Linked DNA regions of Homo sapiens. The protein of the gene in region 1 purifies or fractionates together with the protein of each later gene. This does not show direct contact. Each region holds a gene or a part of one and is shown in the gene's direction. Other genes may lie near its edges. The genes, in order: UNC5B and CIP2A.

The links.
Region 2: the proteins of UNC5B (region 1) and CIP2A purify together in Homo sapiens (affinity purification with western blotting, with the first as the bait; one study listed by BioGRID). This does not show direct contact.

The regions. Positions count from the first base shown.
Region 1 is NC_000010.11:71,215,309-71,219,125, forward strand, and holds part of UNC5B (netrin receptor UNC5B isoform 1 precursor), read left to right. Parts: intron 1-1,915; exon of another isoform or gene 1,916-2,327; intron 2,328-2,685; exon of another isoform or gene 2,686-2,920; intron 2,921-3,817. UniProt on the Homo sapiens protein: Receptor for netrin required for axon guidance. Mediates axon repulsion of neuronal growth cones in the developing nervous system upon ligand binding.
Region 2 is NC_000003.12:108,561,890-108,565,706, reverse strand, and holds part of CIP2A (protein CIP2A), read left to right. Parts: intron 1-252; coding exon 253-352; intron 353-2,462; coding exon 2,463-2,581; intron 2,582-3,817.

The DNA.
Region 1 (3,817 bases):
CCCAGCAGACCCTCCCTCCTATTCTTATCCACCCACCCCTCTGCCATGAGACTCATAACAGACTGAGGCAGGCGAGGCTCTCTCTGCAAAGAGGGATCTTTACTGGGGGTGTCCAAGCTCCCCTCAAGTGGCAGGCACCTCTCTCTCCTTTTCCCCACCCCACCCCATCCCTGGTGAATATGGGAATGAGCTCCCTTTACAGCACTGAGAATATTTTTAAGCTGTAAAGTCTGATGCTGGAGAAATCAAAACTGGAACCATAAAACCCCAGACCCTTAGAAGGTAATGTCAGCAAGTGACTAGCCAGAAAAGGCCACTTCAAAAGCTCTGGTTGGCCCTGGAAATCTCCTCCCACCCCACCTTTCAGCCCTTCCTGGAGCTTTTAATGAGCCTTTCCATGGCCTCTGGCTGGGATGGTTGAGAAGGAGTCGAGGTGTCAAGATAATACTTCTTTTTAAGGTGCAATTAAAATCAGAGTTTTTGTAGTGTCTCTGCTTGGTGTGTGTGTGTGTGTGTGTGTGTGTGTGTGTGTGTGCTCGCGTGCATGCGCCTGTGCACACACAATGATAGCCTGTCCTTGTCTCCCTCTGCACTCACTGTAGCAAACACCCATCTCACTTAAACAAATGGAAAATCAAGTGTCTTAATGGGTTTTCTCATTAAAGTGAAAGTACCACTGCAGGGGAGGAATTTCTCCTGTAATCTCTCTCCTCCACCTCTCTCCCCTCCCCCACAAACAGGGAATTCTGTAGGATAAAACAGTTCCCCTCTTTTCCAATCCATTTATTTAACTGTTGACACTTTGGGACAGGCCAACTTGCCCAAGGTCACACTGGGACTCACCGGTAGCGCCAGGACTTGAACTGAGGCCTCACAACCTCAATCTAGTGCTTCTAGCTCCTTCATTCCATCTGGGCTGGAGACCCACCATCATGGGTGTGGGCTTGAGACTCTGAAATTGAGGCACCACTTAAGGCAGGCAGCTAAAGATAAGATCGCTTTGATGGCTGCTTTAGACTGGAACTCATGGCAGGATGGAGGAAAGAGGTTGAGAGTTGGAAGGGTGAAGAGGTGTTCCAGGAGAGGGGGAACAGGGCAGAGCCAAAGGTCAGGAGTGAAGCTCTGAGACCAGGCAAGTGCCCAAAGGTGGCTCCCCCAACCCCCAGCATTGGCCTCCTGAGCAACTGCCCTGACCTGGGGAAGGGAGACAGGTCACAAGCCAAGCTCCCTTGGGCTGCATGGCCAAATAAACATTAGCATTTTATAGCTCTGCACCCATTTGTAGAGTTGGGGACAGAATATGTTTTTACTTTTTACTTATATTCAAAGCTTTAGGAGCCAGTGCCCTCCCCCACCTTTGTTGTTGAGTTTCTCCTGGACCGCAGGTCTAGTGACCCTTTTCCTGGGTGTCAGGCTTAAGACGAGGTCTGCCTCCTACGCCCCATTCCCTGAGCCACAGAGGTTTTCTAAGGAGGTTTGTGGGCTGCCTAAGACTTTGGGGATGGGCTGGGGGGAGATGGATCATTTCCATTCCAAGTGCTCTCGGACCAGGTTAGTGATTCTGAATAGACAGTGCTGGTACCTCCCTCCCCCAGGGCCTGCAGGCAGCCCGTCTTTTGACCCTCAGAGTTGGGGTTGGGTGGAAAGGAGACAGTTTGGAGGCCACTGCCGCCTTCAGGAAAGGGCAGAGGGGGCTGGGTCATAGGCTGGGACTTGGGGGTGGGAGCCTGGGCCCAGGGAAACTGCTGCCTGGGCAGATGGCCCCCAGAGGGTAGGGAGGAGAAAGCCGGCGCTCAGGCCAGAGCTGGCGCTTCTCTTGGCGTCCTCCTCCTTCTCCTCCTCACCAGTTTCCTAAACAGCTTCCACAAATAGAGTCATTAAAGCTGTGAAGGCAAAATGAAACCAAACAAGTGCGTTCTGTGCTTTTCTGTTTCTTATTTTTTTAAGGAAATTAAAAATACCGTAATTAGAATAATACAAGGAGAGAACACTTTGCGGAAGGCCTAGGGTAAGGGCACTTCCCACCCACTGGGTTGGCTCAAGAGGTTGGGACTGGGGCGCCACCTCCCGCCCCCTTAGGGTCTGCGATCCGCCGGGGGCGCCGCGGGCTTTTCCGCCGGCTCCATGCATTTCCCTGAGGCAGGATCTTTTTGGGGGAAGCTGGCATCCCGGCGCTGGCCTCGGCCCCCGACTGGGAGTTGGGTGGCGCTTGATTGGAACTCCGGCCCGGAGCCGCCTCAGCCGCTGCGCCCCCGCGGGCAGACAAGCCCGGGCGGAGCGCGCTAAGCCACAGGTCCCCGCGGCGTTCCTCCCGGTCTTCGGGGATGCTAATGGCAGCGAAAATATTTGCTGAAGTGCAGGCATAAATCAGCCGCCTCCCCGCTCCCCCACCCCCACCCCTTTTGTTTCCTCTTCCTTCTCTCCAAAAGCGCTGGGCTGCTGGGCGCCAGAATTTACCTTTTCCATCTTAGCGGCCTGATTAGCATCGCCGCCGCTTGTGGGGCTGGATTCTACCCTCTCCTGCGTCCCCCACCCCCAGTCCCCATCTCCACCTCCCTCCCCAGCCGAGCTAAATCGGTCTGCGGAGCCCCGGGAGCTCTAACGCCACCGCCTAGCGAGTGAGTGCACGGAGCCGCCCTCCTTCTCACCTCCCAGAACAGGCTGCCCCCAGTGCTTGCAACTTACCCCTTCGCGGCGCTGCACGGCTCGGCTCACTTCTCCAAGAAGGCAGGCTTGTGGGTGTGAGAGTATGTATTAAGGAGTGTGTGGGGGGTGAGAATGTGTATTAAGCAGGTGGGCGGAGGTGGGAGTTTGCAGGGAGGGGAGGGTGGGTGTGGTGTTGCACTGGGGTGTCAGGTGTGTGTGGGGGCGAGGCATGGACTGGGTGTGTGCCGGAGGATGGATGTGTGTTTGAGGAGGGTTGTGCCTTTTGTAACTCAGGAGGTGTGATGTATAGGCTGTGTCTGTGTTTGGGTGTGTGTGGGGTGGGCAATGTCACATGGGCACACTTGTGGTGTGTTTGTGTATAAATAGGTATGTGTAATGTGGAGACAGTGAGTCACCACCAGGCATGGGAAGCTCCATCCATTGTATTCCGTTGGGGATTCCACTTCAGGATGGGACCCAGGCCATTTGCCCATCAGCACTTAAGAGACCTCATTTTGCCCCACACCTGCACTGTGAGCAGGGTTTGGCCTGAGTGCCAGGTTCTGCTGTTGGAAGGGCAGAGGACAGCTTCCCCTGCTGAGTGCAGATGGGATAGGCCTGCCTGCAGGTGGGTCCTGGTGCTCCAGGGGGAGGAAGGTTGGCAGAGATGGACCCTAAGCCAGCCCAGCAGCTTGGGCTACTGCCCCCAGGAAGATCAGAGTCCCAGACCTGGAGTCTTCTGCAGTCAACTCCCAGCTTCCCCAGAGCATGGGAGCGGCTGTGGTTTGGAGATCTGCTCTCTGACCTGGGTCAGCTTATGCTTCAGCCTGTCTCCCCCAAAGGGAGTGAGTTCTCCTCTAGAGTTTGCTGGAGAAGGGGCCAGCAGAGCTTGAGTGGGTGGGATCCCCAGTGGAGAACCCCATCTCAGGCTGACGTGGCTGGGGCCTGGGACTCTCAGCGGTAGCAATTTAAAGAGGACAGACACACCCACACACATGCTGGACTCCACTGTCGTTACAACTTTCTTGGTCACAGAAGCGCTTACCTGCTTTCCCAGGGCTGTCCACAGGAAGGACTTCCATCACTTCAACTCTAGGATAAGATGGACTGTTCTGGAGCAGGGAGGCCTATAGGAAAATCACAGTCCCTCGCCCCACCCTGGTGTGCATGT
Region 2 (3,817 bases), on another chromosome or scaffold:
AAAGTTGAAGCAGGTTGGTAGTAAAAGAAACACTGTCTAAACTAAGGCTATTAATGCCAGTTTGTTCTCTTTGGATCTTGAGTTATAAGAATGTTGATTGAGATTTTTACTTCTCAATAGAAACAGGACTTTATCATCTTGAATTTAAAAAACACAAGTGTTGGTTTTTTTCATTTTCTTTAGAATTTTGGACAGAAACAAGCTCTAAGAAATTTTTCAGTTATCTAATTTAAATGTGATTTATCTTTAAAGCAAACTTGCTGCTGATGTAATTTTGAAAACTCTTGATTTGATTAACAAACTTAAACCATTGGTTCCTGGTATGGAAGTAAGCTTCTACAAAATACTTCAGGTGAGTTTAAACTCTTCAAACATTGAAGTTTATTCATACATAAATGGTCCTAATATAAGTTTCTGTTTTAATATTCTTAATCTTTAGAAGATAATTCTCTTAGAATTGGCAATGAGAAGAAAGTTTAAAGTTGTTGTCTTAAGCAGTTATAATAGTCTCACTGCACAGTTATTTTATATACTTTCACAGGAATTGAACATAAGTGCTCATGACACTAATGTAGAGAATGTTCACAATAGTGCTGCTTCCTCAGCCTTTTCCTTTCTTGTGTTGTATTTGTATATTTCTTCATTTGTTTCTGTTGGCATTGGAGGAAGAGTGATATTTGTTTTAGGGTTTTTGTTTTTGGTTAGGGTTGATGTAGGGTATTAAGGGGATAGGGAGACAGCTGGAAGAAAAGGATTGTGATAATTAGAAGGGCTGTGCAGAAAATAGCTAACTCACAAATTTCAATGATAATAGTAGCTGAATATGATCTCTAGCTGTTATCAAAAGGCAAAGTACAACAAATTTAGTTCAAAGTTCTAACTGGCTTTTATTTATGATTCTAGAATTTGGCAGCCTCATTCTATAAAATAGAATGAATCATTCCCCTGGGCTAAGCAGAGAAGGTTGACTTTATAGACCAGAAAAGGGCTGAAGAAAGCACAAATAGGGAACTAAAAGCAGATTGGTCATTTCAAAGTTACTTTTCCTATAGAATTATAATAAAGGGGGCTTCCTTATTATACTAACTCAGGTTGACTGAAATCTCCTGGTTTTTTGGAAAACTGGCCCATTTCAAAGTGCAGTTTGATTACATGGCACTCATCCAAGTGACTCCTTTCTGGTTTGATCTGGTCTGCTAAAGCATAGTGGAGGAGACTACTCCAAAATATTAGCCTCTTAAAAACTTTGTGTAATAATATCTACAACACCTACCTTTACAACAGATGTTTAACAAAAATGAGTGAATTAAATTACTGCAGTAGCTTAACAGAGACATCTCTAGTGACTGTATAGACAGTGTAGAAGCCAAAACTGAAACCTTAGGCAGGGACCACTGGCATGTTTTGAGATTAAGGGACTGAGTTCAAATGTTGACTCTACTGGTTCTTAGTACAGGCTTGAGTAAGTTATTTCACCTCTCTCGACTTCAATTTCCTCGACTACAAACTGGAAATAATGAGGCTTACCATTGAGGGTTTTGGAGATAAAGCTCTGCTCTTATCACAGTTCTGTGACACTGGATTATACTCAAGTACCTACAAGGTACTCAATATTTTAATTATAAGGGATTTATATTTTAATATTTTCTTCACTAATATCTCAATGTATTTTTAAAGGAGTCAAACTGATGTTATGTCCATTATTTAAGATGTTTTTCATAATACAGGTTGAGCATCCCTAATTTGAAAATCTGAAATCTGAAATGCTCCAAAAAACAAAACGTTTTAAGTACCAAAATGAGGCTCAAAGGTGATACTCAAAGGAAGTGCTCACTGAAGCATTTTGGGTTTTTGGATTAGGGATGCCCAACCAGTAAGTACATGTAAATATTCTAAAATCTGAAAAAAATCAGAAATTTGAAACACTTCTGGTCCCAGACATTTTAGATATATGTTGATGACTTGGGGCTTACAATACTAATGTAAAATATTTACTGACATAAATGATTGAAGTAACTGTATTTTTTCGATCTTTAAATTTAAATGTTCTAATTTAATTTGAATTTTACTTTTTATTTTATAGCCTTAATTTGGAAGTGATTGGCCATTTTTTTCTTTTAAATGATAGCTTGGAAAAAAACATTAATTCTACACATCAGTCAGTTGTGGGTTTTTTAATCCACGAAAATATATAAGGCATAATTTTTATAGGCACATTTGAAAGCATTCAAAACCTTTGCCAGATTTTTTTAAACTGTTCATATTGATTGCATTGCAGTGTAAACAGCTATAACAAGGTATAATATATTCAAACTATATAGACTATAATATATTCAAACATTAGAAACATTTTAGAATTTGCCTAGAATTAAGATTTACATATATTTACTCACCTCCTATCTAAAAGAGCTGACATTGTTTATTCTTTCTGCTGCTTCTTTTTTGGTTTCTGATTTATTTAGGACCCACGTTTGATTACTCCTTTGGCTTTTGCTTTAACGTCAGATAATAGAGAACAAGTACAGTCTGGACTGAGAATATTATTGGAGGCTGCTCCACTGCCAGATTTTCCTGCTTTAGTGTGAGTTGTAATCATTTGCAGTGTATCTCTTGTGGTGTTGGAATACCCTGCTATGTCTCTTTAGTCCTCAGTATAGATACACAAGCAAATTAGTGAATTGAAGACTTCATTGTAATAGTAATTTTTCAAGTGATTTCTAAAAATGTTTGATTCTTATAAATGAAAAGTTCAGATGTATACTCACTCAGGGAAAAGCTAGATCCAGGCAGTTAAATGTTCTTCAGGTACTATCCCTCTATGTCTCTAGCCACTTCTTTTTAATGATAACTTCTGGACACTCTTAAGCCTACATCCTCCCAGTTTAGTTCCTCCATAGAAAGAGCTTTTCCTTCCTGACTGTTTAAGGAAAAGGTCTAAGCATTAGTCATTGACCAGGCCTGGGTTATCCATGAGAACGATGTGGACTAAAAGTTAGTTGGGATAGGAGAATAGGAGAGTTCCTAAAGAAAAAAATCTGAACTTTTATCAGAAAGTGGAAAAATGACAACCAGGCAAAATTTTCTACTATACTCGTTACTTTCAAGCAATAAGAATATTTGCAATTATGTTTGAAAAAAAATTCAGATTTCAGGGCTCTCTGAACTAAATGTCTATTAGGAGTCTGGTTTAAAATTTTTTTAAGTCATTTATATGTATGAATTTGTAAAAATGGTTTGAATAATTTGAAGTAGTTGATAAACAGGTAAGATATTCCCTGTATACCGGGATCAGCAAACTGGCCAGTGGACAGGCATCTGTTTTTGTAAATAGTTTTATTGGAATATGGCCACACCCACTCATTTTTATACTCTGTCTATGTTGCTTTCACTCTATAAAAGCAGAATTGAGTAATTGTGACAGAGACCAGATAGGTCCTTGAGTCTAAAATACTTACTATCTTGACCTATAAGAAAAAGTGCTGGTCCATGCTATATGCTATTCACTGATTTAGCGATTCCACTTTTCAGAATTAGCAATTTAGGTCATCATACCTTAAGAGTTAAAGTATGGGATGTAAGACCTAGAGAACATATAACCAAAATTCCCTTAATTTTATAATAAATATTTTTTTAACAGCAACAACAAAAATACACAGGAAGCTTTTCAAGTTACAAGTTAAAAGTGGTCTGTAAAGCTGCTCTATTTTGTGATGGCCTGCTTGCATAAACTGGTAATCTGACATGAAACAAAACCTTAAGAGCTTCAAAGGGGAATCTGCAGCCTCACTGAACATGGAAGTCTTATCCTCTGCCTCTG